Regions from separate parts of the Homo sapiens genome. Here all the other regions are linked to region 2. The links come from fine-mapping of genetic effects on gene expression. A gene starts in region 2. Each other region holds a variant in brackets. All regions are shown on one strand. Distances are between the middles of the regions.

The links. PIP is the estimated chance that this variant, and not a neighbour inherited with it, causes the effect.
Region 1: its variant is fine-mapped to the expression of SLC25A26 in lung (TOPMed, PIP 0.92).
Region 3: its variant is fine-mapped to the expression of SLC25A26 in whole blood (TOPMed, PIP 0.97).

The regions. Positions count from the first base shown.
Region 1 is chr3:66,380,988-66,391,996 of GRCh38, forward strand. It overlaps LRIG1 (leucine rich repeats and immunoglobulin like domains 1), which reads right to left. Exons shown (of 19, transcript NM_015541.3): 13 at 4,994-5,314; 14 at 3,004-3,285; 15 at 1,995-2,414; 16 at 1,286-1,411; 17 at 492-644. Among named protein-coding and RNA genes, the nearest start is that of LRIG1, 110 kb to the right of the region's middle. RefSeq lists enhancers at 1,708-2,209, 2,210-2,709, 5,156-5,255, 5,716-5,885, 5,896-5,975 and 1 more. The variant T/G (reference allele first, on the strand shown) is at 4,771.
Region 2 is chr3:66,217,007-66,228,015 of GRCh38, forward strand. SLC25A26 (solute carrier family 25 member 26) reads left to right here and starts at 3,995. Exons shown (of 10, transcript NM_001379210.1): 1 at 3,995-4,121. The coding sequence starts at 4,089. RefSeq lists enhancers at 3,608-3,767, 3,938-3,997, 4,119-4,618.
Region 3 is chr3:66,299,574-66,310,582 of GRCh38, forward strand. All of the region lies in intron 5 of SLC25A26 (solute carrier family 25 member 26), which reads left to right. Among named protein-coding and RNA genes, the nearest start is that of SLC25A26, 84 kb to the left of the region's middle. The variant G/C (reference allele first, on the strand shown) is at 4,914.

The sequences.
Region 1 (11,009 bases), 160 kb after region 2:
TTCCTCTTTTCCCCAACTATGTCCCCAGAGAAAGGACTGGGCAAACACCAAGTCACTCATGAACTGTGGGGTCTTTCGTGTTTACAGTGAATTTCATAGACAATGTAGTCTTACTGCTTCACGGGGGAAAAGCCATTAGCCTTAGGTACCATGCAGTGTTGGGTCTTTTCAACAATTAGAAATAAGCCTCAAAATAGCCCTGGTGAAAAAGTGCTGACTGAAACTCTATACTTCGTTTGTGCCTTGCCCCTTATTTAAGTTGCTTATACATCTAGAAAATTCATGCTCAGGCTTACCATGGCGTAGATTTATTTAGGAGAAACTATCCTGGAATTAAGAGAGCCAGGCCTGAGCTTCCCCTGTATATACTGAATACCAAATTTGGAGACAGCTGTGGACTAGGAATGTGTCTCCCCCTTTGATGTAGTGACTAGGTCAGCCCAAATTTCCATTTCAGAAAGAAACTACTTCCAATGGGAAGCATCTCATACCCATCTTATGTGGCCCAGGTGTCCCTTCAGCTTTCTCCATCGCTTTCCACGGCTCTTTGTGATACGCAGACCCAGCACAGAGCTTTGGCTGCCTGCAGGCAACGCTGTGAGTGTCGGGCTCTGGAAAGTGGCTTGCATCTCTTGGACACACACCTGCAAGTGGATTCCAACACGATTAGAAACTCTGGGCTTGGTATTTCACAGTAAGCCTTATGAAAGGAATGAGCAAGGCCGCTAGAACAGTCATTTTTTTTAAAAAGTTCTTCAGAGCGGTGGGGCTGCTGGTCTGGCAAGCAGCGTGTTTTCTGCTACTACTTCCCAGCAGGCAGGCTGGCCTTGTGAAATGAGCAGCTGTCTCAGGGTGAGCCTCTACAGTCTCAGGCAAGTGCTCAGAGGCCCCCACCGTTGGAAGTACCTCATCCTGGTGACAGCTTTCCAGTGTAAGACTGGATCACAGAGCAGACCTGGGCACGTTCCCCATGTAAGGAATGGGTTGGCTGGGTTCATGCACCGTAATGCCCTTTCCAGCTGCTACTCCAGGCAAGCCTACTTTATCCTGCCAGGGAGATGCTAAGCCCAATCCAGTGGCTTCCTGAGGGGACAGGACTTTAAAACCTTGCAGAACTCATGAAGACTGGGTCCAAAATAGCAGCCCTTAGTCATACCGCCTTCTACTTCACCAAGTTTGCCCCATCTAATGCCAGGTACCTGCCCTGTAAAGACCTGGAGGCCACCTCCAGCACCCAGAGACACAGTCACAGCAGAGCTCTGCTTCACAGTTACTGAGGCCTTACCATTGCTCTCAATGTGCCCATTGGCCTGAGGGCCACCCTCGGTCCTGACCACGGTTTCTTGTCGGTCAGAAAGGGTCCCCTGAGAAGAGAGGTAGCTTGGAACATCTGGTGGCACGACGGTTTCATCTGCAAGGAGACAGAACAAATAGAACACCAGGGTCTCAGTGACAAGAAATGCAGACACACGTTCACTGTCAAGCTCAGAAAGGGGATCCTCCCAGTGACGACCATCAGCGCTGTGCAGAGAGATGACATGGAGTCCATGTACGCAACAGGCCCTCCCAGAGCCTGCTCAGCTTTACTCTACACCCAGCGTGAAGAGCGCAGCCAGCAGATGCCAGACGCCACAAGAAGTGGAGACCAGTGATGGAAAGCCGGGGCTCACAGAAGTACCGCACTGTTTCAGGAACAACCTACTACGTGGCAGCAGGGCCTGTGCATAGGCGGCCTCTGAGTTAGCAAGGAGAGGGAAAACTGCATGGTGCGTCAGTTACTTGTATTTGTGAGTATTCCTGTTTAAGGTTAAATTTGAGAGTATTCCTGTTTAAGGTTAAGTTCCTCAAAGTTAAAATGGAATTAGTGGGACTAAACCCTCAGGAGTTCTGAACACAGTGCAATTCTTTCAAAAGCCACTGGAACCCGGCCCAGTTCCCCAGCATCACTGCCATTCCTCCCTCCTTGAAAGTCAGCTCCGCTGGCAGGGCCTGACCTGTGTTGGTGACACTGTACTCTTCACTCTTCTTCCTGGTCTGGTAGATGATGCACACCCAGACCAGTGACGTCAGGACGATGCTGCTCACGACAGCAATGGTGAAGATGCCTACCGTGGTCCCATCCTTCCTGCAGCCTGCTGCGGGCAGGACGCTCAGCTGGCTGTGAGCTCGCTCCGTGCCCAGGGTGTTGGACATCTCACAGGTATATCGGCCCGCATCCTCTGCCACCACGTTCTGAACCACCAGGAGCTGGTTGTCAGGGGTCAAGTGGTGCCGCTCAGTGAGGCTCAGCGGGCGGTCCCCCTTGAACCAGGTGATGCGGGGCGGAGGGTTCCCCGTGGCTTTGCATTGGAGGGCCACTGTTTCTCCCACAGATACCACACGGTCTTCCAAGGGGACCACCAAGGATGGGGTCTCTACAAGAGAGCAACAGAGATCTTAGTCATTCTCAGGGCCTCCGTTGCTCTGGCTCTGCCCGGTCTTCTGGACAACGGACAATCCAACATATCAATGAGATGCATCTGAGATTCTGTCTCAGAGTGGCAAGCTTTGGAGAAGACCCTTCAACTCATTGACTGAGTCATCTCCATGCTGGGAGTGGCTTCCACAGGGACAGTGAACCTCTGCTGACAAAAGCCCCTGCTATTCCCTAACTGTCCTGTGTCAGGCCTGTGTCCTTATTCTTGACCAAGCCCACATCCATCCTGTCCAATTCTTAAAATGTTCTGTAGCTCTTGACCAAGCCCACATCCATCCTGTCCAATTCTTAAAATGTTCTGTAGCTAAACCCTATGAAGACTCTTAATTCACCAGCTATCATTTCTTTTAAAGAGATAGAAACACTTGTTTAAGAAAAATTAACTCAACTCAAAAAGCAGCCCCAAATTTCAAACAGGGTCGAAAGGCCCACAACGCATACCACCCCTGGCCACACAGAGCATTTGAGAGTCTCTCTCTCTCGCTCACACACACACACACACACACACAGTAGAGCAATAGGCAAACCTAGGACAGTCAGGGTGGCATTAGCTGAAATAGAACCGGCTGAGTTCTGAGCAGTACAGCTGTAAACCCCTGCGTCATCTATTTTCACATCAGTGATGAAAAACACGTCGTCATCCGGCATGACATGCATGCGTCGCTCACGGGCAGCGGGGAAATCCGTGCCTCCATCCTTCTGCCAGGCAATCTGAGGGTTTGGGTGACCTGTGGCAGCACATTCGAGGCGGGCCATGGTGGTGGTCCGGATGGTTATGTCGTGGGGCGTTTTGGTGAATGATGGCAACACTGGAAAACATACGTATACAGGGTCGGGTTACGGGACAGCTAGATGCAAAACCAGGAAGTCCTCTGGCAAACACCTACCTGTCACTGTGCCCAGTGCCAGTTCACTTCTTTTCTCCCAATGTCTGCCCAGGACCACTCCTGCCACCTGTGAATCAGGAACCCCCAGCTTCTCCCACCACAGTTGGAACACTTCCATCCCATCAGCCTTGCATTGTACACCCTAGGCTGGCTATAGTCCCTTCAAAGCAAAGGCTTTTACTCTACATGGCAGTGCCTATACGGGAGTTGCAGGGGGTGCCCATCCACACTAGGTAGGCCTGATGCTTGCCTGCTTTACCCACCAAGAGAGAGGCTGTGGAGATGGAATTACAGAGGGAAGGTGGGCATGCCTCCACCTTGGGAGAGCAATGGGATGGCTCATCCGTTTGGATGGGTGTTCATGGGATGAATGGGATGGCTCATCCATTTGGATGGTTGTTCACCCAGGCTGTTCCTGCCCACTGCCGTATACCCAGGCAGGAAGCATTCAGCTTGCTAGCTTGCTCAGCCTAAAGATCGATGTCCTGACAGAGTGGGACGCATCCAGCCACGTGTCAGGCACCACCAGAGTTCCTGTCAACGTCAATTTTGGGGAGAGTCTAACAAACAGCTGAGTCTTTCGGAAGCTGTGAGGACTTGGAATAAGCCAAGACAACCCCACTACAGTGTGGTAAAGAAGGTGTTTCGCTGTGATCTGTGGGGGCTTAAAGAGCAAAGCAGATCCACCATTCTGATGATTCTCAAGCCAATTCTTTTTAACTAGAGAGTTAGTAATCAGGATAACCCCATTAGGTTACTGGGGTGGGACAGTAAACTCTTCAAGCTATCTACTCCCCACCCCCCTCCTCCAAACACACAATAACACATGGTCCCCTTGACAAGCTCCAAGGCTGGTTAATGAGTAAAAACCTGTCAACTGCCAGGACACTGTGTCTTTCAGGCCAGGGCTCACACCAGCCTTGCACTCCACAGTCTCTGGAGCAGTAGCTAGCCTCTGACTCCAATGCTGTGCCATCTACTCAAAGAACAGCAGCTTCCCCAGGCTAAGGGGTATTTGGAATTTGGAAGCCAGATCTCTTGGCTTATAGAGGATAAGAACTGGACAAAACAAGGCTTAGCTCTCCACAATTTGACTTAATAACTAGTTTTTGTTTTGTTTTTGAGACAGTCTCACTTTGACACCCAGGCTGGAATGCAGTGGAGTGATCTCGGCTCACTGCAACGTCCACCTCCTGGGTTCAAGCAATTCTTGTGCCTCAGCCTCCCAAGTAGCTGGGATTACAGGCATGTGCCACCACACCTGGCTAATTTTTGTATTTTTAGTAGAGACGGGGTTTCACTATGTTGGCCACACTAGTCTCGAACTCCTGGCTTCAAGTGATCTGCCCACCTCAGTCTCCCAACTGCTGGGATTACAGGCATGAGCCACAGCACCCGGCCAATAAC[T/G]AGATTTTTAAAACTCACCAAAAACAAGTAACTCATTGTGAATAACCCTTGAAATCTGCAAAACTTGCTCTGGGGCAAACCCAGGCAACAATAGGATTTAACAGTGCCCCACAGAAGCATGTGTGTGTCCTGTCTCAGTCATCTCTACATGGAAAGCTGAAAGGGCAATCAGGAGTGTGCTTTGTAGGATTCTGGTACTATAACAAAGATGGTGTTTCCATACCATTCACGGTGAGCCTGGCCTTATGTGAATAGGTGGAGCCAAAGTGGTTGGTGATGACACATTGGTAGCGGCCCTCGTGCCCGAAAGTGACCTGACGGAGGTGCAGGATGGTGGTGTACTCCATCACTTCCCCGTCCTGCGCGTGGACGTGGACAAAGTTCTCCATGTCTGCATTGGTCAGGACTTCATTGTCTTTCTTCCAGGCAAAGGTCATGGGGGAGCTGCTGCTGCTGGCTGCTGAGCATGTAAACCGGATGTCCTTGCCCACCATAGCCATGGTGGTTTCTGGCTGGGTGATGATCTGTGGCTTCAGGAAGTCATCTGGGGAGAGAAGGGTCAACTGTAAAGCGCTGGGTTCTTGGTACACAGAGGAACCAGCTGCTGTTCATGCTAACAGAAACTGACACAGACACCAAGCAGGAACCAGAGCTTGAGGTCCCTGTGCATCCTCAGCCCCACCAACCAGATGCCGTAAGAGTTGCACCATGGACATCTGACCTCATCTAATTAGAAGTCTGTGAGTACTGATCACCTTTATGATCACACTCCTTGATTAGAAATTAACCCACCACTTCTCAGTTCTCAAACCAGCCAGCCGGCAGTTTCCTTAAGACAACTGGCTCTGCCTGCTGACTTTCACACAAAACAGTCAGGCACCACTGGTCATGACTGCAGAGATCTTACCCACAAACCTTACTCCAAAAGGAGGGGGTGTAAAACACTTCCAAAATGTCAGAATAAGGACCTCCAAAAATCTGCACCTCCATTAAAACAAGGAAAACACCTGGAAAAATGGTCAAAAGCAACTTTTTCAGAATTCTGGAAAACCAAAGGCTTACAACAATCCATGGATTGTTGATTCAAGCAAATAGCAACATCTCAGAAATGTGAGCTTTGTGGTATTTTAACTTATCCAAAGCCCCATTCTTCCCTCCCCAGCTCCATGGTAGCCTTGAAACCCAGCAGCCTAGCAACCACTCAAGGGTCAGAATGGGCTCCCCAAAAGCCCCATCCTCAGAACTGACACCATGTGGCCTATCTGGCAGCAACACGGAAAGCCCCATTCACAGGATTTGCATTGATTTGCCCTGATCTAGTTTGCCGAGCAGGAGAAGCCCTAGCCCCAGGGCACATGACTACAACAATCAGTAGCCACTGTTCAACAGCGCAGCTGTCTGAGGGGACAATACCCATGGGGCAAACAAGCAGCTGGCCAAAAAACTATAAAGGAAAATGTGGGGAATACAGTGTTAATGGTGGGCTTTGAAAAGGTCCAATACATTCCTGGGGATCTAGACAGCCACATGCAGGTGCAAGGCCATGTGCACACCCAGGAAAGACGTGAGGGGGTCCTCATTTGTCACCTGTGGCTGAGCATGACTGTCTACACAAATAGGAAGTGATGGCACACCCCAACACAAACACACAAGCCGTCGGTAAAGGATAGGAGACAGTGGTTGTGGTGACTTCTCTGTCCAACCATTAGCTAACCACTAAACTAAACAAGCAGGGACTTAAGGGGACGGACTTTATATAGCCTTTGTCCAGGAAAAGTCACTAGGCAAGCTGTAACAATAAACAGCAACAGCAGCAAATCCTGGGGGAGGAGAAAGGGAATATCCAATTTCCAGAGTTGCCACATTATTTTATTTTAAATGCCCAATTTTCAACAAAATATTATGAAACACTCAAACAGGAAAAAAAGCAGTCAACAGAAACTGTCTCTGAGGGAGCCCAGACTTAGATTCACTAAATAAACTTTTTAAATCGGCAATTATAGGCATATTCAAACACCTCAAGGAAACCATGTCTTAAAAAAAATATCGAAGGATAGTGGCCAGGTGGGGTGGCTCACGCCTATAATCCCAGCACTTTGGGAGGCTGAGGCAGGAGGATCATGAGGTCAGGAGATCAAGACCATCCTGGCTAACATGGGGAAACCCTGTCTCTACTAAAAATACAAAAAAAAAAAAAAAATTAGCCGGGTGTGGTGGCAGGTGCCTGTAGTCCCAGCTACTAGGGAGGCCGAGGCAGGAGAATGGCATGAACCCAGGAGGCGGAGCTTGCAGTGAGCCAAGATCACGCCACTGCCCTCCAGCCTGGGTGACAGAGCAAGACTCTGTCTCAAAAAAAAAAAAAAAAAAAAAAAAAAGGATAAAGTATGAGAAAATTTTATAGCAATAAAGAGAAATTATAGATATGAACCAAGTAGAAATTTTGAAACTTAGAAGTACAATAACTGAAATGAAAAATTCACTAGAGGGGCTTGACAGCAGAACTGAGCTGGCAGAAGGAGGGGGCAGGGAACTTGAGACAGTCAACTGAGATTATGTAGTCTGAGAAACAAAGAAAAAAGAATGAGGTAAAATGAAAAGAACCACAGAGACTTGTGGGACAGCATCAAGCACAACAACATACAAATCATGGGAGTCCAAGAAGGAGAAGAAAGAAAAAGGAAGAGAAAAAGTATCTGCAAAACAATGGCCCCAAATTTGATGAAAAATGTGCAGCCACACATCCAAGAATCTTAATGAACTCCAAGTAGAGTAAATTCAAAGATCCAAACGCAGATTCATCATAGTCAAGCTGTCAGGTGCCAAAGACAAAGAATCTTGAAAACGCAAAAGAGGAGCAACTCATCACATTCAAGGGATCTTCATTATTATTAACGGCTGATTTCTTACCAGAACCCACAGAGAACAGAAGGCAGTAGGAAGATATTCAAATTACTGAAAGAAAAACGTTCAACTATGAATTCTATGTATTAAAAAACCTATCCTTCAAAAATGAAGGGGAAATTAAAACATTCCGATGTTTTTATTTTAAACACACACAGAGCAAGTTGACTGTTATCAGGCCTGCCCCACAAGAAATCCAGGAGAGTATTTAGTATGGCTGAAATGAAAGGACATCATATAGCAACTCCAATCCACACCAAGAAATAAAAAATCCCATTAAAGGTAACTACACAGGTAATACAACACACAGGATACGTGTATTTTTGTAACTCGCGTCTCCTGATTTAAAAGACAACTACATAAACCAGTAATTATAAGGCTGTGTTGATGGGCTTAATGAAAATGTAATGTGTACGACAACAGTAACACAAAGGAATAAAACTGGATCTTAATAGGAACATAATTTTTGCATATTACTGAAGTTAATTTCATTATTTATTTGAACTAGATTGTTGTAAGATGTTAATTTTAATTCCTATGGGCAAAACTAAGAAAATAACTAAAAAATACCCGTGTATTTAAAAAACAGGGAATTAAAATAGTACAACAGAAAATATCTTTTCAATAAAAAAACTAGTCAGTATTGGAAAAACAATGAAACAAAAAGATAGGACACATAGAAGAAATAAGGGGCAAACTCTACCTTATTAGTAAATGCATTAAAGGAAAATGAATTAAACACTCCAATCAAAAGGCAAAGATTACCATAATGGATAAAAAAAACTATGATCCAGCTATAGCCTACAAGAGACACAGTGTGGATTCAAAGATACAAATAAGCAGTCACCAAAAGAGAACTAAAGTGTCCATACTACTAACAGACAAAATAGGCTTTAAGACAGGAGTTTTTACTACAGAGACAGAATAATATTTTATAATGTAAAAGGGTCAATGCATCAGAAACACGTAAAAATGATAAATACATATATACCTAATGGAGCGCCACAAAACATAAAATCTGACCAGATTAAAGGAAGAAATAGTGCAACAATAATAGTTTGTACACTTCAATACCCCACTTTCAACAACGGATAGAACTAGTCAGAAGATCAAGGAAACAGAAGACTTCAACAACACTATGAGGGGACTTCAAAAAGTTCATGGAAAACCGAATTATAAACTTTATTTCTCAACATAACCTCCATCAAGTTTGAAACTCTCCTGAGTGATGATACCAGCCATTTAGTCCATCCCTAAAGAACTGAGGGTCCTGGGACATATCAATGCAGTCTTTTTTACATTATTAATTGAAGAAAATTGGGTGCCCTTTAAAGATTTTTAAAGATAATAACTAAAAAGAAGTCAGATGGAGCCAAATTAGGACTTTTAGGTGGATGTCTCATGATTTCCCACCAAAACTCTCACAAATTCACTCTTCTTTGTATTAGAGCTTCTAGCCAGTGCAACAGGCTAGAGAAAGAAATGAAAGCCACCCAGACTGGAAATGAAGAAGTGAAACTACCTTTTTGCAAATGACATGATGATCACATATAAAGAAAATCCTAAGAAATTTACTGAAAAACTTAGAATAAATGATGTCAACATATATGCAGGATACAAGATCAAGATACAAAATTCAATTACATTTCTGTATACTTGCAATAAATATTTCATTTTTGAAAATCCAAAAGTGAAATTAAGGATTTCATTTACAATAGCAAAAAGAATAAAAACAGAAATACCTTTAACAGTAGTTGAAGATGTGTACACTGAAAGTGACAAAACATGACTGAAAGAAATTTTTAAGAAGCTAAGAAAAAAGGGTGGACAGCCCATCTTCATGGATTGGGAAGACTTAATACTGTTAAGATGGCAATACTTCTCACATTAGTCTATAGATTCAATGCAACCCACATCCCACTTTCCTTTACTGCAGAAATTGACAAGCTGATCCAAAAAATTGTAAGGAAATGGCAAGGGATCCATAATAGACAAAACAATTTTGAAAAAGAATAAAATCAAAGGGCTTTGTAACACTAAGGTTATAAAACTCTTAGAAGAAAATAAAGGAGGAAATCTTTGTGACCTTATCTCAGGCAAATAGTTTCTTTGATATGACATCAAAAGCATACGTAATAAAAGAAAAAATAGAGATATTGAACTTCACCAAAATTAAAAACTTTTGCATTTCAACTATCAAGAAAATGAAAAATAGCCCTCCCTCAGACTGGGAGAAAATATTGGCACAACATGTATCTTATGAAGGTCTCATATCCAGAATACATAAAGAACTTTACAACTAAACATTGAAAAGACAAATGAATACTGGCAAATGATTTAAATAGCTGTTTTTCCAAAGAAGATATATATATATATGTATGTCCAATAAGCAGGTGAAAACATGCCTAACATCATTAATCATTAGGGAAGTGCAAATCAAAACCACCATGAGACTCTATTTTACACTCACGAGTACATCCAAAATAAAAAAGACAGTTAATAACACATGCTAGCAAAAATGGGGAGAAATTGGAATTCTCATGCATTGGTGATGGGCATGTAAAATCATGAAGCCACTCTGGAAAACAGTTTGGCAGTCCCTCAAAAAAGCTGAGCACAGAGTTAGCGTATGACCCAGCAATTCCATTCCTAGGTTTGTACCCAAGAGAATCACACAAAACCCTGTATATGAATTTTCACAGCAGCATTATTCATAATAGCCAAAAAGTGGGGACAATCTAATGTCCATCATCTGATAAACGGATAAATAAAATGTAAACCCATTTATTCAGCCATGAAAAACAGGAATGAAGTACTGATACATGCTTAAAAATTATGCTAAGTGAGAAAAGCCAGTTACAAGAGACCGTATACTGTATGGTTCCATTTATATTAAATGCCCAGAATAGGCAAATGATGGAGACACAATGAGATTAGTGCTATCAAGGGCCTGGGGGCAGAGAATAGGGAGTGATTACTAATGGTATGGGGATCCTTCTAGTGGTGATAAAAATGTTCTAAAATTAGATAATAGTGATGGTTACACAGTTGTGACTATTATAACAACCATCAATTTATATATTTTAAAGGGGTAAATTTTTATGATATATAAATTATATTTCTTTTTAAAAGCAGCTTTATTGAGAATACTTCATCTACACTACAACTCACTCATCTAAAGTATACAATTCAATGGTTTTTAGTATACTCACCAATATGGGCAACCATCACTACAGTCAATTTTACAACATTTTCATCACTTCAAAAAGAAATGCTGTACATTTTAGCTATTACCCCTCTCTTTCCATCCCTCCCCATCCTTAAACTACTACTAACCT
Region 2 (11,009 bases):
TGAAATACCTGGTAAAGCCTTTACCTTGCATAAAAGGAGAGACTATGTATTTCTTCTTGATTCTGAAAGATACCTGATAAATTACATTTCCCTCCAAGTTACCAGAAAATGACATCAACACAATTTTTTCTTGCAAAGTTAAAGACAACCATTGCATTGAAGAGGAAAGGAATTTTTTTCTTAATTTTACTTCAAAGGATGTATTAAATCAAAATTAAAGGTATAAGTCTAGGTTAAATTTTCTCTTAGGGAAGGAATTACATCAAAAACTTCCAGGAACATTAGTAGCTAGAAATAAGATTTATTTTCACTTAGGAGGCTATAGTAGTATGTATCACAAAGTACTTATGCACCTTGATAACTTATCAGTCTCTCATTCATAATATTCAGAATCTCTAACTTAAATAGGAAAATACGGAATAAACCGAATATTTCTATATGACAAGCACTGGACTAAAACTTTCTGTGCATATATTATTTATTCCTCATCATCCTGCGAGATAGTAATATTTTAATCAACTTTATTGAGCTATAATTTACATATACTTTTTTTTTTTTTGAGATGGAGTCTTGCTCTTGTCACCCAGGCTGGAGTGCTGTGGCACAATCTCAGCTCACCGCAACCTCCACCGCTCGGGTTCAAGCGATTCTCCTGCCTCAGCCTTCTGAGTAGTTGGGACTCCAGGCGCGCATCACCACACTCAGCTAATTTTTTCTATTTTTAGTAGAGACAGGGCTTCACTGTGTTGGCCAGGCTGGTCTCAAACTTCTGACCTCAGGTGATCCGTCCACCTTGGCCTCCCAAAGTGCTGAGATTACAGGTATGAGCCACGGCGCCCAGCCTTATAGTTTATATATACTAAGTACAACCATTCTAATTGTGCAAGTCAATGCGTTTTAGTAAATGTACACACCCATGCGACTACTACCACAATAATAACAAGAGAATATCTTCATCATTGCAAACTATTGTTTTGTGCCCACTTCATAGTCAATACTTTGCCTCTACCTCCACCGCCTGGAAAGCATTTATATACTTTCTGTCACTATAATTTTGTCTTTTCCAGAATTTCACGTAAGTGGAATCACAATACATGTGGTCTTTTTTTTTTCACATAGCATAATGCTTTCAGATTAATCCATGTTGTTTCATATATCAGTAATTCATGTCCGTTTATTGTTGAGTGATGTTCCATTATAAAGATGTATCATAATATGTTTATACCACCAGTTGATAGACATTCAGGTTGTTTTCAGTTTTTGACTATTATGGATAAAGCTGCTTTGAAATATAATGTAAAAGTATTTGTATAAATGTTTAGTTCTCTCGGGTAAATACCTAAGTGTGGCATTGGATTTTATAATGGTTGTACCATATAAAATTCGAAACAGCAATGTATGAGATTTCCAGTTGCTTCTCATCCTTGTCAACACTTGGCTTTTTAATTTTAGCCACTCTAGTGAGTTCTAGTGTATTCATATCTCATTGTGGTGTTCACCGGCATTTCCCTGATGTGGTAACCAGTTTCCAAGATGGCACCCAGTGATCCTCATCTTCCGGTATTTAGGCTTTTGGGTAGTCCAGCCCCATAATAAATGTCGATTACCTGTGTAAACAATAGACTATTGCTGGAATGACAACTGAGTAATTTATGAGAACAGGTCATGAGAGACTTTGTAGTTTCTGTCTTGTTCTCTTTCAGACCACTTACTCTAGGAACAACCAGCTACTATATCATGAAGACACTCAAGCAGTACTATGGAGAGATGTATGCCATGAGGGATTAAGGCTACCTGCCAATAGCTAGCACTAATCTGCCAGTTATGGGAGTGAGCCATCTTGGAATTGGATCCTGCGGTCATGATCAAGTTTTATGATATGGCCCTGGCCACCATCTTGACTGTAGTGTCATGAAAATTTCTGAGTCTTAAACACCCAGCTAAATGACTCCTTGATTCTTGACGTATGAAAACTGTGTGAGGTAATAGAAGTTTATCGTTGCTTTAGTCTGTTAAATTTTGGGGGTAATTTGTTACGCAGAAATAGACAAATAATACAGATTTTGGTACTTGGAGGTGGGCGCTACTGTAATTCCTAAACTGTGGGAGTGCCATTGGCACCAGGCAGTAGGTGAAAGGTGGGAAGACTGTGAGGGAAATGTCAGTGAAAGCTTATTAATAGAAACTTGATGGCCTTTGAGGAGGCTGCCGGTGAGGGTTTATAGGAATGTGAAGTAGGCAGGATTCTAAGGTGGCCCTCAAGATTCCTGGCCCCTAATGTGTTTTGCATAATCACCCCACTGATTGTGAGCAGGACCTGTGAGTATGACAGAACATTACCACCATGATTATGTTGTCACGTATGGCAAAAGGAATTTTTCAGATATAATTAAGGTCTCTAATCAGTTGACTTTGAGTTAATAAAAATGGAGATTATCCTGGGTAGGCCTGACCAAAGCACATGAGACTTTGAAAGACATTAATAGCAGCAACAGAGATTCTTCTGCTGGCATTGACAAAGTGAACTAGCATGTTTTGAGAGGGCCTACAGGCAGCTTAGGGAAAGGTATTCTGGGTAGAGAGAACAACATGGGCAAAATTAGGAGGCTTGGAAGTGTATAGTCTGTCTGTGTGTAGTCCGGCTAGTGGGAAGAGTGACAGGAGACACCAGCTGAGAGGTGTATACCATGCTAGGGAGCTGGACTGTCTCCATTGGCAGCAGAGGGGAGTTGTAAGCAGGGAAATAACATTACCATCACCTTTAGAGAGTACTTTCTATGAGCCAGGAACTAGGCTAAGAACTTGAGTGCATTATCTCATTTAATCTATTAATATAATAGTACCGCATGACAAAGTGACTATCATTATCGCCACTTTACAGGGGAGAAAACTTAATCTTGGAAAACTTATCCCCAAACCCAGCAGGTGATAGAATTTGAATTCCATCTAACACCTAAAGCTATTCTGCGTATCATTTCTAGATCATTTTACCTAGAAGAGAATAAGAATAATTATAAGAATAATTCTAGCAGTGTTATAGAATAGGGATTGAAGAAAGGCCAGGCAAGGAGCCTGCTCAGGTTATTATAACGGTTTTGAGGAAAGATGATGAGGGCATTAAGTATATTTTCAGTGCTTGCTCTGCTGTGTTCTCTGTAGCCACATTGAGTCGGTTACTTGTTGGAGCATCAGGAGCCTCTGTAAAATGAGGACACTAGTGTTGCTGACATCATAGGGTTGGTGAAAGGATTAAATGAAAAAATGTCTGTCAATCACTTAGCACCACGTCTGAGATGTAGTTGGCCCTTAATATATACAGAAGTTTACAAGGTATTTGTTTGTTTAATAAAGACAGGTCCACTCCAAGAAATGTTATTAAGTACTTAATAACGTGTGCTTTGAGGTGTACACATGAGTACAACAGCGAACAACATGAGCAGGTAAATAACTGAACAAACAAATAATTTTAAATGCAGTAACTCTGTAAAGAGAAATGGAGGATGCTAATTTTTAACTCCGGTCAGGAAACTTCTGATGTATTTTTCTATATCTTTATTTAATAATCTTCTGATAATGAGTTAATTTAATATAAACTCAGATAAAATTTTTTGACAAAACTAAGAGATAAACCAAAATGAAATATCCGATTAGGATCCCGAATCGCGCCTCCCGAGGTTAGTACTACCCCTCACGACTCCTCCCTCCGCCACAGCCACGCCTCTTCTGGGTTTACAGTTCAGAATCACGCCGGCCTCATTCTACCGCTGCTCTCTCCTGGATCTCGGCCACGGATCTTTTGCTCGCGAAAGTTCCTCCGTCTAGCTGCACACAACGCTGCTGCAGGAAACCGAGGTAAGGGATTTGCCGAGACTTAGCTCCACCACACTCCCCGAGGCCCCGCCCCTCCTCTCTGGCCCTCCCCTAGGCCCAGGTGTCTCGCGTTGCACGTGCAGTTGTTGTGGTTCTACGTCACGTGGTCCCGGAAGTTCAAGACAGACCCGCCTCAAACATGGCGGCGCCCAGCGCGCGAGGACGTGATCCGCTTCTGCTCCGGCTTGGATTGTAGCCTTGACGAGGTCTGAGCGACCATGGACCGGCCGGGGTTCGTGGCAGCGCTGGTGGTGAGTGCGGGGCGGTGGGGTGGGTTGCTCAGAGTGCCGGCGTCCGGCATTGGAGCCCGCGGGCGTTCTCTGCACTGGTTTTCTTCCGGTTTTGCGGGCTGGACTGTCCTCGGGTTACTGGCAGCCAGGTCTGAGAGGGAGCACGAGGCTCCCAGGCCACCGGCGGGCCAGGTGTTAAGGCTATGTCTGTACTGCCAGGTCATAAGAGCCAGGTGGGGGAAGGAAGGTGAGTCATTGTCTTTTGCACCCTCATTTACTTAAAAAAGAGCTTCTATTATACACTGTTAACTACTCTTTCATTAAATAGTGTAACTACTCTAGAGATCTTGGGAATTAAAGAAATGTATGTAACACAACAACAAAAACCTTACTCACATCGCTCCCAGCCCTTCTATTCAATACTACGTTTCTCATTTTGCTGCATCTCTTTTCAGTCTTAGAAAATGACATGTCCTTCTGTTCATTCAATACATAATCTGCTATTTCTGCTCCAAGCCTAGGCTTTGGAGAAATATTGGTGAGCACACATAGCTCATCGGGAACGCTGCGGAGTCAATAAACAGGCTTAGTATTTAATTCCGTAGCAGAAAACTACGAGAATCAACATGAATTAACAGAAAAAAAAGTCCTTTACCAAATATTTTGGAGCGTCTGGTAGAGGATACTAGATACAGCAGTTAACAAAACAGAGTTTGGCTGCCTACGTTTTCATTGTGTGGAATGGGCAGAGACAGACAAATAATTTTTAAAATGATTTTCATAGGGAAAATGGAGGCCCACAGTGATTTAGTCACTTAATTATCGAATTTTGGTGTTGCAGGTGTTGAGGATAACATGGTGAACAAGATAGACCTGCTCCTAAGGGTCAGGTGTTAGAGACAAAATAGTAAAATGACTGTTGGGATAAATAACAGGTGGGCTAGGTTCAGGGTGTTAGGGGAATATATGGAAGTAGGGATGTCTTAGCCAGACTTGTAGGATGATAGCTTTAAATCTAGATTTGTTGAAACTTGTATAAGGTAGGTCTTAGAAATATAAAGAAATAATGTTACTGATTTTTTTTTTTTTTTTTGAGAAGGAGTCTCACTCTTCGCCCAGGCTGGAGTGTGGTGGCGCCATCTCGGCTCACTGCAGGCTCCACCTCTCGGGTTCACGCCATTCTCCTGCCTCAGCCTCCCGAGTAGCTGGGACTGCAGGTGCCCGCCACTACGCCCAGCTAATTTTTTGGGTTTTTAGTGGAGACGGGGTTTCACCGTGTTAGCCAGGATGGTCTCGATCTCCTGACCTCGTGATCCCGCCCGCCTCGGCCTCCCAAAGTGCTGGGACTACAGGCGTGAGCCACGGCGCCTGGCCAATGTTACCGCTTTTAAGGAGCTTTCCTGTCTAGCTGGTGACACAGCAGCAGTAGTTTGTCAGCTAACATTCCTGTGCCAGGAACTGGGGTAAGCTCTTTACATACATTATCCCATTTAATTCTCACAATAATTGAACTCTTATCCTAATTTTCCAAATGAGGGAAGTGGGATACCAAGAGATTAGATAACTAGTTCAAAATCACACAAGTGAGATCCATTTCGTCTGTGTAAGTATTGGAGCTCATATTCCAACCCAGGTGATGTCACCTGGGAGTCGTGCCCTTATCTGCTTCTTGATACTCTCCGAAGTCAGCAAAGGTTGCAATTGCTAAAACACAGGTGAGTGCTGCAGTTAACAAAAGAATGGATTTAGTATATACTTAATTAAAGTATGATACACATGCAGTAAAGTATACTTTTTTCCCAATGTATTTATAGAGGGTAAAATTAGAATCAATAGGTGGAAGTTTCAAGAAACTAGATTTCATTCCAGGTAAAGGAAAAACATTTTATTTATGCATTCAGCACACAATTTTTCTTCCATCTATTCTGCCCACTGGGTATTGTGGTAGGCTTTGTAGATACAGTGGCAGATAACCCCATTTCAAGTAGGGAAGAAAGGCCAGCAGATAAAACAGTTGCAATGAATAAGTGCTATGAAAGAAATGAACTGAAGATGCGACAGAGTAGGCAAATATTGGTGAACCTCTTAGATGGAGTGACCAAGGAAAGCCACGAAGTGGTAACATTTCAGCTAAGACCTAAAAGATAGGAAGGGGCTTGAATTTTTGATGATCAGAGTGGGAGGTTCAGTCATGGGGAATGGCTCAAGTGGAAAGAGCTTAGAGTTTTCAAGTGGTGAGGCCTAATGGGTAAGGATAGCATGGCAGGGGTTGGTATGGGAGGGGTAGGCAAAGCCAGCTGAGGTGGGGCTTTATGGGCTAGGGAAAATAATTTGGATTTCATTTGTAGTGTAATGGAAGCCATTGAAATGTTTTATTATCAGAGTAGTACGGAAATGGAGTGGCTACTTTTTAATGTCTTGGAGTGCGTTTGAGACACAGTGAACACTCCTGAGGGAGTTTGGTTTTGCTTACTACTCTTTTACCAGTACCTGGCACTAGGTAAGCACTCAGTACTACTTTGAATGAAAAGCCTAGATGATTGCTGAAGTCTTGAAACTTGGATTTGAAGAATTAAATGAGGTAACATTAAACACACAGAGCAGAGCCTGGCAAGTAGCAGACATTGAAATGCTCCCTTCCTAAAGCTTCATGAAGAGGATTGAATAAGTGGAGAGCCTCTGGGATGTTAGTTATCATTTGGAGCACAGAGTGGGGTATCCAGAAACAAAATCCTCAAAGAGTACATTGATCAGTGCATACTTTTAGGAAAGCAACTGGAACTATGTATTAGCAACCTAAAGATATTTATATAAATAACATTTAACTCAGTGAAGACAGTAAGAAGCTGCTAAAACATGGGACAGAGGGGAAGAATTAGACAAACAATGGGAAACCCATTTCTTGGACTAGTCTGCAGCCATAAAAAATAGTGCTTGTGAAGAGAATGTACTATAATTACATGGAAAATGCTTATGAGATAAAATTAAGAGAAAAACATTGCATGTATGTATATTTGCTTGTACCTAATTAAAGCTATGTTAAAACCTATTCCATTCATGGGGAAAAAAAGCCAGATTGAAATACTCCAAAATAGCACTAAGTATTTTTGGTGGTAGGATTACATCGTGTTAGTCTGTTCTCATGCTGCTAACAAAGATACCTGAGACTGGGTAATTTATAAAGGAAAGAGTCTTAATTGACTTACAGTTCCATTTGGCTGGGGAGGCCTCACAGTTGTGTGGAAGGCAAAGGAAGAGCAAGTCATGTCTTACATAGTGGCAGACAAGAGAGCATGTGCTGCAGGGGAACTCCCCTTTATAAAACCATCAGATCCTGTGAGACTTACTCACTATTACCAGAAGAGCAAGGGAAAGACCTGCCCCCATGATTCAGTTACCTTCTACCAGGTCCCTCCCACAACACATTGGAATTATGAGAGTTACAATTCAAGATGAGATTTGGGTGGGGACACAGAGCCAAACCATATCATTCCACCCCTGGCCTCTCCCAAATCTCCTATCCTCACATTTCAAAACCAATCATGCCTTCTCAACAGTCCCCAAAGTCTTAACTCATTTTAGCATTAATTCAAAAGTCCACAGTCCAAAGTCTTATCTGAGACAAAGCAAGTCCCTTCTGCCTATGAGCCTGTAAAATGAAAAGCAAGTTAATTACTTCCTAGATACAATGGGGTTACAGGTATTGGGTAAATACACCCATTGCAAATGGGAGAGATTGGCCAAAATGAAGGGGCTGTAGGCCCCATGCAAGTCTGAAATCCAACAGGGTAGTCACATCTTAAAGCTCTGAAATCATCTCCTTTGACTCCATGTCTTACATCCAGGTCACGCTGCTGTAAGAGGTGGGTTCCCATGGTGGCTTTGTGGGATACAGCTCCCCTCCTGGCTGTTTTCATGGGCTGGCATTCAGTGTCTGTAGCTTTTCCAGGCACAGGGTTCAAGCTGTCAGTGGATCTACCATTCTGGGGTCTGGAGGACAGTGGCCCTCTTCTCACAGCTCCACCAGGTGGTGACCTGGTGGGGACTCCTTACTGGGGCAGCCACATTTCCCTTCCACACTGCCCCAGTAGAGGTTCTCTAGGAGAGCCCCACCCCTGCAGCACACCTCGGCCTGGACATCCCGACGTTTCCGTACATCATCTGAAATCTAGGCAGAGGTTCCCAAAGCTCAGTTCTTGTCTTCTGCACACCCACAGTACCAACACCATGTGGAAGCTGCCAAGGCTTGGGGCTTGCATCCTTCGAAGCCATAGCCTGAGCTCTACCTTGGCCCCTTCTAGCCACGGCTGTAATGGCTGGGACACAGGGCACCAAGTCCTGAGGCTGCACACAGCAAGGGGGCCCTGGACCCAGTCCAGGAAATCATTTTTTCCCTCCTAGGCCTCCAGAGCCTGTGATGGGAGGGGCTGCCATGAAGGTCTCTGACATGCCCTGAAGACATTTTCCCCACTGTCTTGTCAGTTAACATTTGACTCCTGGTTATTTATGCAAATTTCTGCAGCCAGCTTGAATTTTTCTCCAGAAAATGGGTTTTTCTTTTTTACCGCATCATCAGGCTGCAAATTTTCCAAACTTTTATGCTTTGTCACCTCTAGGATGCTTTGCCACTTAGAAATTTCTTCTGTCGGATACTGTAAATCATCTCTCTCAAGTTCAAAATTTCACAGATCTCTAGGGCAGGGGCAAAATGCTGCCAGTCTCTTTGCATAGCAAGAGTGGCCTTTACTCCAGTTACCAAGAAGTTCCTCATCTCCATCTGAGTCCACTTCAGCCTGGATTTTATTGTCCATCTCACTGTCAGCATTTTGGTCAAAGCCATTCAACAAGTCTCTAGGAAGTTCCAAACTTTCCCACATCTTCCTGTCTTCTGAGCCCTTCAAACTGTTCCAACCCCTGCTTGTTACCCATTCTGAAGTCGCTTCCACATTTTCAGGTATCTTTATAGTAGCACCCTACTGTGGGTACCAATTTCCTGTATTAGTCTGTTCTCACACTGCTGATAAAGACATACCCAAGACTGGGTAATTTATAAAGGGAAGAGGTTTAATGGACTAACAGTTCCACATGGCTGGCAGAGGGGCCTCACAATCATGGTAGAAGGCAAAGGAGGAGCAAAGTCACGTCTTACATGGCTGCAGATGAGAGCGTATGCAGGAGAACTCCCCTTTATGAGATCATCAGATCTTGTGAGACTTATTCACTATCACCAGAACAGAATGGGAAAGACCTGCCACCATGATTCAATTACCTCCCACCAGGCCCCTCCCACAACATGTGGGAATTATGGGAGCTACAATTCAAGATGAGATTTGGTTGGGGACCCAGAGCCAAACCATTTCATGTGCGTTCTTTTCTTTTTTTTTTGAGACAAGGTCTTCCTCTGTTGCCCAGGCTGGAGTGCAGTGGTGCTGTCTCTGCTCAAGTGATCCTCCCACCTCAGCCTCCTGAGTAGCTGGGACTAGAGGCATGCACCAACCACGCCTGGCTAATTTTTTAATTAAAAATTTTCTTGTTTTGTAGAGACAGGGTCTTGCTGTGTTGCCAGGGCTGGTTTTGAAGTACTGGCCTCAAGCAATCCTCCTGACTCAGCTTCAAAGTGCTGAGATTACAGGCATGAGCCACTGAGCCCAGCCCATGTTGTTCTTACAGTTTTTAGAAAATTTTTTTTGTAGAAAGAGGTGTCACAGGTATGAGCCACCACACCTGGCCCACCCTAAGAATTTTTGTCAAAACATTAAAAACGCTTTGGTTGTAATATATAGGGGAAAAATTGCAAAGCTGATGTTTATTTAGTACACTGTAATTAAAAACATTAGAAACATTAATAACTTAATTTTTTGGACAAAACCTTATCAACAGTAGTTTGAACATTTGCTTGTGTTCTCATTATGTATTATAGAAGAAGCATCTTTTTATGCCTTGGCAAGTTGTCATACTGCTTTCTCAGTTTGGATCAACTTCTAACATTTTATTTTTTGTGCTTTCAATGTTGTGAGTTCGTTTAATGCGAAGACTTGCTGACATAACTTAGTCTGGGACATTTTCATCCTTTTCATCACAACTACTTTCCTTATTTATGTTAAATTTGCTCTCACTTATTTTTTCTAGTTACTTATCTAGATTAATGACAGCAGTGTGAATATTTCCATGGCCAGCTGTTTGTTCTCTAATACCATTTATGTCTGATTTTTGTTTAACTTTGTGTTACCACTTTTCATTTTTTTTGCATTTTCATCTTTGTTCATCAGTTTTCTGTCTATTTTTATAAAATGTCGTGTGCATTTATTACTGGGAGATGAGGTAACAACTATTTGCTGTCTGTGCGTAAACTGAGTAATAGGCAGTGATTTCTGTTAATTGTATTGTGATTTGTGGACTGAACAAGTGGTGAAGTTTACACTTTATCCAGTTACTCATAGTTAATATGCTGTGGTAACTGAAATTTGACCTGGGTCATTGGGAGATTCATGTTATTTAAGTAAATCATGGTAACTGAAATTCATGTATGTAGGTACCATGCAAAGTGAGGACCGCTTGTAGTTTTTGTTTTCCTGTTTTTAGTGAGGTGATTTTTGGCTGGTGCTGTCATCTGGGGAGCTTTTTCGTGATACTTGGGTGTCTTCTCACTGGACCTGCCCTTCTGCTGAGAACCACCTTACAGGCAGTAGGATACTTGAGGGGAACAATGTGGGTTATGATGGCAGGGGTTCTTGGGTGGAGTGAAGAAAGGTAATACGAATGAAGTATTGGGTATACTATTAAAAGAGGTTTTCTGTTTTGTTGTTTTTCTTGTTTTGCCTCTTATCTTTTCTGGATAGTGACCTCCTAGTTTTCAATTTGGAGTAAAGGGCATCTTTAAAGATTATCTCCAAATTTATAAAAAATTGA
Region 3 (11,009 bases), 83 kb after region 2:
TCCGTAGTCCATATTTATTATTGCTTCTTTCACTTTTCTCCTTTCTTCATGCATGAAAATATAATGTGATCCAAGGGGGTATGTGTGCATGAGGTGTGTGTTTATAGAGTAACAGTTAAATGTCTCGAAATAAACTGATTTGGATTTTTAGGTTATAGATGTTTTTGTTTTTTATTAAACGTCTTGATTGTTTGACTGTCATGGTTGTTTGTATAACTCCTTGAGAAACTTCCACATGCGGGTAGTTTTTGAAAAAGAAAATATTTATTTGCTTCAGTTTTTCAGGGGATGGTATCATACTGCTTTTTCACATTTTATGGGTGACATATTTGGCTATCTCTGGGCAAAAATCCAGTTAAAAATAATAGTATTTAATATTTAATAAACTACCAGGCTTTTGAGCCATCTGGAACTTTATTTTCTTTGCACGCAGCATCTGAGTTTCAGCTGTTAGCGTTTCTCCTTTGCTCTGGGAAGGGTCAATTGCTTTTAAAGTCTTTGAAGCTTGCTGTGTCAGCCCTTTTCATATTTTCAAAATGCCCGTGTAAAAGGGTTTTTCATCCATTCATGCTGATAAGTCTTTTGAACTTGAGGTTTGAACCAAGCTAATCAAATTTAATTATAGCTTAAATCCCGTTACAGTGAACTCCAGTGGACTTCTAGGCTAGGGTTTTTTTGTTTTGTTTTTTTTTTTTTTTTTGGTGTTATACTGGAATTTAGCCATTACCAATATTACTTGAAGTGAGCAGGCCATTGACTGCAGTTTGGGAGACCTTTTGTAATGGTCAGATTTTAGTTATAGTGACATTGGCAATATGATTTGAACTTTATTCTTTTCCAAAGGAAATAATTGAATTAGCCACAAGTAAAATTTCTTGTTCTTTGCATATATTTCAAATTACCTTTTCCTATTTGTCTTAAACAATTTTGAACAATTAAAATCTTAAAAGTACTTTCTTAAAGAGTCCTTTGGTGGTGGTGTCGCTGATGCTCGTTTTTTGTTTTTAAGATCCATAACAGAATAAGGATTTATATACATCCTCCTAGGGATAATGTCATGGTTTCTGCATATTTGCATAGCATTTTGAGAGAGACTTTTTCCTTTTTGCTTCATGAAAAAAAGTTTGAGCAGTATAATTTTCTAGAAAGAAGGAAATATAAATATTTTAGACTGTAGCATATACTAAAGGGAGGTGGACTAGTACTGATATTTTTAGTGCTTTCTTCAAAATGATTGCTAACACGTGTATTATATTTTAGTATCTTGTTGCATTCACTTGTTAATCTGTATTTATGCTTCTGTATATGCAGAGTTTTTTGTTTTTTCCAACACAATTTAAAATTCTACTTAAAAATTACTTGTTTGGATTTCTAAGCAGATTTGGGAATTACGGCATTGAAAATACTTTGTTGCTTTTTATGTCTCAATAAAGTCTATGCATTTTTATAATATTGGACCAGTGTTTGACCTGCCAGAATAAAATGATGATAGAACTCATTGTGTCCTCAAATAATTGGATTCTGAAATGGAAGATAGGGTTCATGAAGAATAAAAAATAGTAGATCTCATGTAAAGGTGAAAATTTACTTTTCTTTTTAGTATTCAACTCAAAATTGCCAGTTTCCCTGAATTTATTATAGCAATTTCTCTTGTTTTAAAATGAAGTGAAATGTGAAGTTAATTTACATACTAGCTGCTTTGAAGTGTAATTTTGCTTGCCAAGTTGTTACAGATTTTTATACAGACTTTTTAAGGAATTTAGTAATAATGCTGCCACAGTGTGTAGGACAAGTTCATGCCTTGCATCTTTGATGGGCGTTAGAATTGTTTGCCACAGTTCCCACTCTGGTTGGAGGGCACAACCAATTCGTCTATGCCTTTTGACTTCCATGCCGGAGAGTGTGACTTCTGCATCTGTTTGTTAGTATTTTTATGTAAGCAGAAGCCAAGAATGTCATTAGAAAGTAAAACTTTAACAAGAGGGACTGAATCCTACTAGGCCAACATAATTTATAGAGAGCAGGGGCTAACATTTTCATTTGGGAAAAATGCTTCCATTTCTATACGTGTTTAGACGGAGTACCTTAAGCATTGTTTTAGTCTTTTCCTATCTACATGTTACCATTCAGAACTTAGGTGGATGAAACACATTTTATATGTAGTTACAGAGAGATACAGAATTAAAAGCCTACAGATACAAGCATTAGAATTGTGACGGGGGTAATTAGAAACATGGAGTCTGAAGGTAGCCTATCTGGATTCAAATCCCAGCTCCAGTACTTAGCCATGTGGCCTTAGGCAAGTTATTTAAACTGACTTATTTTGTTCCTCTGTAAGATGAGAGTAACAATAATACCAACCTCATAAGGTTGTTGGGAAAATTACATGTGTTCCTGCATATGAAGTGCTTAGGACAGTGCCTGAAATACAGTCCTATATAAATGTTATAATTTATGATTATTGTTGTGATGATAATGATGATAATATCACTAGCAGCTCCTCTGAAACTTGTTGGCCTCATCCAAGGCCTATCACTTAGCTTTATCCCCAGTGTCTCTAATACTCCATCTGTTGTGCAGAAGTATATCCTGAACCTTCCTCCCTCTGAATTTGCCCACTTGGCACCTCTTCATTTGCTCTTACAATCTCTAGACCATAAATTTCAAAGACGTGGCCCAAAATGTTGGACTCAAGGTTTTTGCAAACTACAAGCTAACATGTTAAAATTGAGTGGTTTCATATACAACTCCAGTTATCCAAGTTTTCTTGGACAATCTGGGTATCTGGTCATAGTGGGCCTACATTTCTGCATGGCAGTAATTGTCTAGAACAGAGTAGCGGCTGCTTGTTTTGACAGAAACTGCTCTCCATGTCATCAGAGTCCCTGCCACTTCCTGTTGTTTTGACACTTTTCTCATTCTAGTCATCGATATCATTTTTTTGGGTCATGTAATACTTATTTGCTGCCAGCAGTTTAGAGTAAGCAGCGGTTCTCCACCATGTGTTCTGCACACTCATACTCCACTAGGCCTTTGCTGATAGGTCACCAGATTTTGATTCATGTGTAAAACATACATTAGTTAAAATCAAGTATGCATAATAGTGTTTTGGCTTTGTCTGTCAGAAGCAACATTGAGCTGGGCAGGTGTGCTTGTGTATTAGAGCTAGATACAACTTGGTGAAAAGGTTAGCCCATATTTAAGTTCAAACCAAAGAACAGTGATTAAAGCCCAAGCCAAAGAAAATTGAGATATGGGAGAGCTTTGCCTTCTGAGTGTGTAAGGGAGCACAGGTGGTGCACGCCATGTGTTCAGTGTCTCAGTGCTAGGGAGTCAGCAGGGATAAAGAAAGATAACTGATGCCTTAGAGCAGAGTTTAAGGGGCTGTGGATTGTGTCCATGGGGACCCCCCTTTGCATTCCAGGCTGTGTAGCAGCATCCCTGGCCTCTACCCACTAGATACCAGGAGCACCTCCCGTGAGTAGTGACAATTTAAATGTCCCCTGGGAGGTTGAAAGATGCAGAAGACATTATAATATAGTAGTTATCATGGTCTAGTCACTGTTGACATCTTTAATACTGCTTTTAGTCTTTGAATCCTTTGAAATATTGGCTTTGTACTCCACTTTTCTAAAGCATTCAGTATTTATTTTATGGCCATTTTACTACAGTATCAGAGAGGAGATATACTTCTCTCCCCCTCTCTAGTCAAGCACAACTGCAAGTATCTTTAAGGCGCAGCCACCTTTAAGGAAAGACTTCTGGGAACAGCTAACTGTGTTGGAGGAACTGGGCTGTGGCTCGTCCTCTGCTGCTCGTTAGCCCTGTGAACCTGGGGAGGCTAGCTCCCTCTCTTAGTCTTGGCTAAAAGTGAGGTGGCTGGATCAGATAATCAGCAAGATGCCTTCCAGGTAAGATTAGGCTGTAAGTCAGAAAATATTGTAGGACTTCTGAAACTTTAACTGCCAGTCAAGATCACTTAACTAGAATGTCCCACATTTTTCACTCCATTGAAATGAGTAACTTCAAGTGTCATGTAACATCAGGATCACTTAGGGGAATGTCTAGAGGTGCAGTAGATGATTGTTAGCTTTCTGTTGCTGTGTAATGAATTACCACAACTTTAGTGGTTTAAGGTGACATATATTGATGATCTCATGGGTCTCTACAGCAGCAGTCTGAGGACCGCGTGGCTGAGTTCTCCATTCACTGTTTCACACAGTGACAGTCAAGGTGTTGCAGGGACTGTGATCTCATCTGAGGCTAGGGTCCTCTTCCAAATGCACAGGGCGGTTGGCAGATGGCATTTCCTTGTGGCAGTATGACTGAGGATCCTGTTTCTTGTTAGCGATTGGATGGTGACCACACTTTACTTCCAGAGGCTGCTCTGAGGTCCTTGCCATGTGGCCCCCTCCATAGGCCCTTTTACAACATGAAATTTTATTTCTTCAGAGCCAGCAGGAGAATCTCTCACACTTCAGATCTTGTTAGGAAGGGGCTGGTTTTTCTAAGAACTCACCTTTGAAGTCAAGCCCATCCACGATAATTTCCCTCTTGATAAACTCAGAACCAACTGATGGGGGAACTTAATTAAATCTGCAGAATCCATTCATATTTCTGATTAAATGTAACTTCGTCACAGGACTTGTCTTTGTCCTGTTCACGGTCCCATCCACACTGGATGGGGGAGGATTATACAGGGCGGGTACATCAGGGAGTGGGAATCTTGGGGGCCTCCCACAATGCCTCTTGATTTAAAAAGATTCTGGAGCATACTTTTTCTTATGTCTCATATCTAAGCTAATATCTTCCCTTTTCTGTTCAGTTTCAGTTTTGTGTTCACATGTCTGTTGTCATATTTTTTCTTCTATTTTTGCAGGAGGAGGATTAGAGTCAAAGGTGTGGGGAGGCTT[G/C]TGAGCTTCTGTGAGTTGTTGTGTGTGGCTTGTATACATGCTGTTATACTGGTAAGCTCTGTAACAACCCCTGATTGCTGAACATGCTAACTGGGATATACGCTACATGGTTCACTGGTGCTTTCAGGAAACCATCGAGGTGTCAGGCATTGAGGATTCGTTGTTCACTAATACATTCTTTAAAATGCTTTTAGAATCATTATATCCAGTTTCCTTTCTCTCTGTACATGGGACTGATTAACCACCATGTGGGTGGAAATCTAATTTGTTGCTGGCTCAGAACTTTGCAATTTTCAATACTTTGCAGAATTATCCTGTTTACCAAATGAATTGTGATAAAAATTGATACATTAGTATTAAGAGGATGACTTATAACATGTACTATGATTTATAGGGCCAAAAAGACCTGATAAACTCACAACCATTTTACCCCATAATGTTAAGAAACTCAAAAGATTTTGTCACCAAAAAGTGTATCTTGTGATTTATTTTTTATGACACGGTAGTATCACTTGTTAGAGTTCTGAGATTCTTTATTAGCAACTGACAGTTTTCTAGGAACTGAATTTTTACACTTAGAGCTGCGAAAAGCCAAAAGCATTTCTAAATGATCTCCATCCCATTCCCCTCAAATAATAATGTACACGCTCATTATAGTTTGTTAGTTTCTCATGCCTTTCTTTGGTGTTCTCATGGTTGTGAGAAGTTGGGAGAAGCAGCGTCTAAATTTAGGAAATGGATTTCTTTTCTGTTACTAAGTACATTGCTATAATTTAAAGACAACAGGAGAACATGTCTTTTATCTCAAATGGGTCTGCTATTTTTCTTCTAAGGTGTTTCTCTAAGAGTAACATTATGTAATTTAATCAGTGTTATAAAAAATGGAATTCCTGGTTAGGATTTTAAAAGGTGATGTTAACAGATATCAAATTTTTTATATTAGGGATTGAAGGACTTTTATTTATTTATTTCATTTTAATTTTTAAGCTCCAGGATACATATGTAGGATATGCAGCTTTGTTACATAGGTAAATATGTGCTATGGTGGTTTGCTGCACCTGTCAACCCATCACCTTGGTATTAAGCCCAGCATGCATTAGCCATCTTTCCTAATGCTCCCCTTCCCCCCACCCCACCCTGTGAAAGGCCCCAGAGTGTGTTGTTTCCCTCCCTGTGTCCATGTGTTCTCATTGTTCACTTACAAGTGAGAGCATGTGGTATTTGGTTTGGGTTGATTCCTTGTCTTTGCTATTGTGAATAGTGCTGCAGTGAACATACATGTGCGTGTGTCTTTGTAATATAATGATTTATATTCCTTTGAGCATATACCCTGTAATGGGATTGCTGGGTCAAATGGTATTTCTGGTTCTTGCTCTTTGAGGAATTGCCACCCCATCTTCCACAATGGTTGAACTAATTTACATTTTCACCAATAGCGTAAAAGCATTCCTGTCTTTCCTCAACCTCGCCAGCATCTATTGTTTCTTTCTTTTTTTCTTTTTCTTTTCTTTTTTTTGAGATGGAGTCTCGCTCTGTTGCCTAGGCTGGAGTGCAGTGGCACTAACATGACTCACTTTAACCTCTGCCTGCCAATTTCAAGCAGTTCTCCTGCGTCAGCCTCCCGAGTAGCTGGGACTACAGGTGTGCACCACCATGCCCAGCTAATTTTTTGTTTAGTAGAAACAAGGTTTCACCATGCTGGCCAGGCTGGTTTCAAACTCCTGACCTCGTGATTCACCCACCTTGGCCTCCCAAAGTGCTAGGATTACAGGCGTAAGCCACTGCGCCTGGTCTGTTTCTTAACTTTGTAATAATTGCCATTGTGAATGGCGTGAGACGGTATCTCATTGTGGTTTTGATTTTCATTTCTCTAATCAGTGATGTTGAGCTTTTTTTTCTTATGTTTGTTGGCTGCATGAATGTCTTCTTTTGAGAAGTGTCTTTTCATGTCCTTTGCCCACTTTTTAATAGGGTTGTTTTTCTTTTTCTTGTCTCTCTCTTTTTTCTTTTCTTTTTTAATACTTTAAGTTCTGGGGATACATGTGCACAACGTGCAGGTTTGTTACATAGGTATACATGTGCCATGGTGGTTTGCTGCACCCATCAACCTGTCATCTAGATTTTAAGCCCCACATGCGTTAGGTATTTCTCCTAATGCTATCCATCCCCTTGCCCCCAGCCCCCAACAGGCCCCAGTGTGAGATGTTCCCCTCCCTGGGTCCATGTGTTCTCATTGTTCACCTCCCACTTATGAGCAAGAACATATGGTGTTTGGTTTTCTGTTCCTGTGTTAGTTTGCTGGGAATGATGGTTTTTAGCTTCATCCATGTCCCTGCAAAGGACATGAACTCATACTTTTTTATGGTTGCATAGTATTCCATGGTGTGTATGTGCCACATTTTCTTTATCCAGTCTATCATTGATGGGCATTTGGGTTGGTTCCAAGTCTTTGGTATTGTAAATAGTGCTGCAGTAAACATATGTGTGTGTGTGCCTTTATAGTAGAATGATTTGTAATCCTTTGGGTATATACCCAGTAATGGGATTGGTGGGTCAAATGCTATTTCTGGTTCTAGTTCCTTGAGGAATTGCTGCACTGTCTTCCATAATGGTTAAACTAATTTACACTCCCACCAACAGTGTGAAGGTGTCTGTTTCTCCACATCCTCTCCAGCATCTGTTGTTTCCTGACTCTTTAATGATCGTCATTGTAACTGGAGTGAGATGGTATCTCATTGTGGTTTTGATTTGCGTTTCTCTAATGAGCAGTGATGATGAGCTTTTTTTCATTTGTTTGTTGGCCGCATAAATGTCTTCTTTTGAGAAGTGTCTGTTAATATCCTTTGCCCACTTTCTGATGGGGTCGTTTGTTTTTTCTTGTAAATTTATTTAAGTTCCTTGTAGATTCTGGATATTAACCCTTTGTCAGATGGATAGATTGCAAAATTTTCTCCCATTCTGTAGGTTGCCTGTTCACTCTGATGATAGTTTCTTTTGCTGTGCAGAAGCTCTTTAGTTTAATTAGATCCCATTTGTCAATTTTGGCTGTTGTTGCCGTTGCTTTTGGTGTTTTAATCATGAAGTCTTTGCCCATGCCTACGTCCTGAATGGTATTACCTAGGTTTTCTTCTATGGTTTTTATGGTTTTAGGTCTTACGTTTAAGTCTTACATCTTGAGTTAATTTTTGTATTAGGTATAAGGAAGGGGTCCAGTTTGAGTTTTCTGCATATGGCTAGCCAGTTTTCCCAACACCATTTATTAAATAGGGAATCCTTTCCCCACTGCTTGTTTTTGTCAGGTTTGTCAAAGAGCAGATGGTTGTAGATGTGTGGTGTTATTTCTGAGGCCTCTGTTCTGTTCCATTGGTTTATGTATCTGTTCTGGTACCAGTACCCTGCTGTTTAGGGTTGCTGTAGCCTTGTAGTATAGTTTGAAGTCAGGTAGCATGATGCCTCCAGCTTTGTTCTTTTTGCTTAGGATTGTCTTGGCTATACGGGTCTTCTTTGGTTCCATATGAAATTTAAAGTAGTTTTTTTCTAATTCTGTGAAGAAAGTCAATGGTAGCTTGATGGGGGTAGCATTGAATCTATAAATTACTTTGGGCAGTATGGGCATTTTCATGATATTGATTCTTCCTATCCATGAGCATGGAGTGTTTTTCCATTTGTTTGGGTCCTCTCTTATTTTCTTGAGCAGTAATTTGTAGTTCTCCTTTAAGAGGTCCTTCACATCTCTTGTAAGTTGTATTCCTAGGTATTTTATTCTCTTTGTAGCAGTTGTGAATGGGCGTTCACTCATGATTTGGCTCTCTGATTGTCTGTTAATGGTATGTAGGAATGCTTGTGATTTTTGCGCATTGATTTTGTATCCTGAGACTTTGCTGAAGTTGCTTATCGGCTTAAGGAGATTTGGGGCTGCGATGATGGAGTTTTCAAAATATACAATCTTGTTAACTGCAAACGGAGAGAATTTGACTTCCTCTCTTCCTATTTGAATACCCTTTATTTCTTTCTCTTGCCTGATTGCCCTGGCCATAACTTCCAGTACTATGTTGAATAGGAGTGGTGAGAGAGGGCAGCCTTCTGCTGTGCCGGTTTTCAAAGTTAATGCTTCTAGCTTTTCCCCATTGAGTATGACACTGGCTATGAGTTTGTCATAACTATTCCATAACTATTCATAACTATTCCATAACTATTCCATATATTCCGTAACTGTTCCTGGTTTATTGGGTGTTTTTAGCATGAAGGGGTGGTTAGCATGAAGGTGAATTTTATTGAAAGCCTTTTCTGCATCTGTTGAGATAATCATGTGATTTTTGTCATTGGTTCTGTTTATGTGATGGATTATGTTTATTGATTTGTATATGTTGAACCAACCTTGCATCCCAGGGATGAAGCCTGCTTGATCATGGTGGATAAGCTTTTTGATGTGCTGCTGGATTCGGTTTGCCAGAATTTTATTGAGGATTTTCGCGTCCATGTTTATCAGGGATCTTGGCCTGAAATTTTCTTTTTTTGTTGTGTCTCTGTCAGGTTTTGGTTTCAGGAAGAAGCTGGCCTCATAAAGTGAGTTAGGGAGGAGTCCTTCTTTTTCTGTTGTTTGGAATAGTTTCAGAAGGAATGGTACCTCTGGTAGAATTCGGCTGTGAGCCATCTGGGCTCTTTTTGGTTGGTAGGCTATTAATTACTGCATCAATTTCAGAACTTGTTATTGGACTATTCAGGGATTCGACTTCTTCCTGGTTTAGTCTTGGGAGGGTGTATGTGTCCAGGAATTTATCCATTCCTTCTAGATTTTCTAGTTTATTTGCATAGAGGTGTTTATAGTATTCTCTGATGGTAGTTTGTATTTTTATGGGATTAGTGGTGATATCCACTTTATCATTTTTTATTGTGTCTATTTGATTCTTCTCTCTTCATTGGTCTGGCTAGTGGTCTATTTTGTTAATCTTTTCAAAAAACCAGCTCCTGGATTCATTGATTTTTTTTTTAAAGTGTTTTTCATGTCTCTATATCCTTCAATTCTGCTCTGATCTTAATTATTTCTTGTCTTCTGCTAGCTTTCGAATTTGTTTGCTCTTACTTCTCTAGTTCTTTTAATTGTGATGTTAGGGTGTCGGTTTTAGATCTTTCCCACTTTCGCCTGTGTGCATTAGTGCTGTAAATTTCCCTCTAAACACTGCTTTAAATGTGTCCCAGAGATTCTGGTATGTTGTGTCTTTGTTCTCATTGGTTTCGAAGAGCTTATTTGTTTCTGCCTTAATTTCGTTATTTATCTAATAGTCATTCAGGAGCAGGTTGTTTCCGTGTAGTTGCGTGGTTTTGAGTGAATTTCTTAATCCTGAGTTCTAATTTGATTGCACTGTGGTCTGAGAGACTGTTTGTTATGATTTCCATTATTTTGCATTTGCTGAGGAATGTTTTACTTCCATTTATGTGGTCGATTTTAGAATCAGTGCTGTGTGGTGCTGAGAAGAATGTATATTCTGTTGATTTGGGGTGGAGAGTTCTGTAGATGTCAGTCAGGTCCCCTCGGTCCGGAGCTGAGTCCAAGTCCTGAATATCCTTGTTAATTTTCTGTCTCGCTGATCTAGCTAATATTGACAGTGAGGTGTTAAAGTCTCCCACTATTATTGTGTGGAAGTCTAAGTTTCTTTGTAGGTCTCTAAGAACTTGCTTTATGAATCTGAGTGCTCCTGTATTGGGTGCATATATATTTAGGATAGTTAGCTTTTCTTGTTGAATTGACCCCTTTGCCGTTATGTAATGCCTTTCTTTGTCTTTTTTGATGTTTGTTGGTTTAAAGTCTGTTTTGTCAGAGACAAGGATTGCAACCCCTGCTTTTTTTTGCTTTCCATTGGCTTGGTAAATATTCCTCCATCCCTTTATTTTGAGCCTATTTGTGTCTTTGCATGTGATATGGGTCTCCTGAATACAGCACGCCAGTGGGTCTTAACTCTATCCAATTTGCCAGTCTGTTTCTTTTAACTGGGGCATCTAGCCCATTTACATTTAAGGTTAATATTGTTATGTGTGAATTCGATCTGTCATGATGCTAGCTGTTTATTTTGCACATTAGTTGATGCAGTTTCTTTG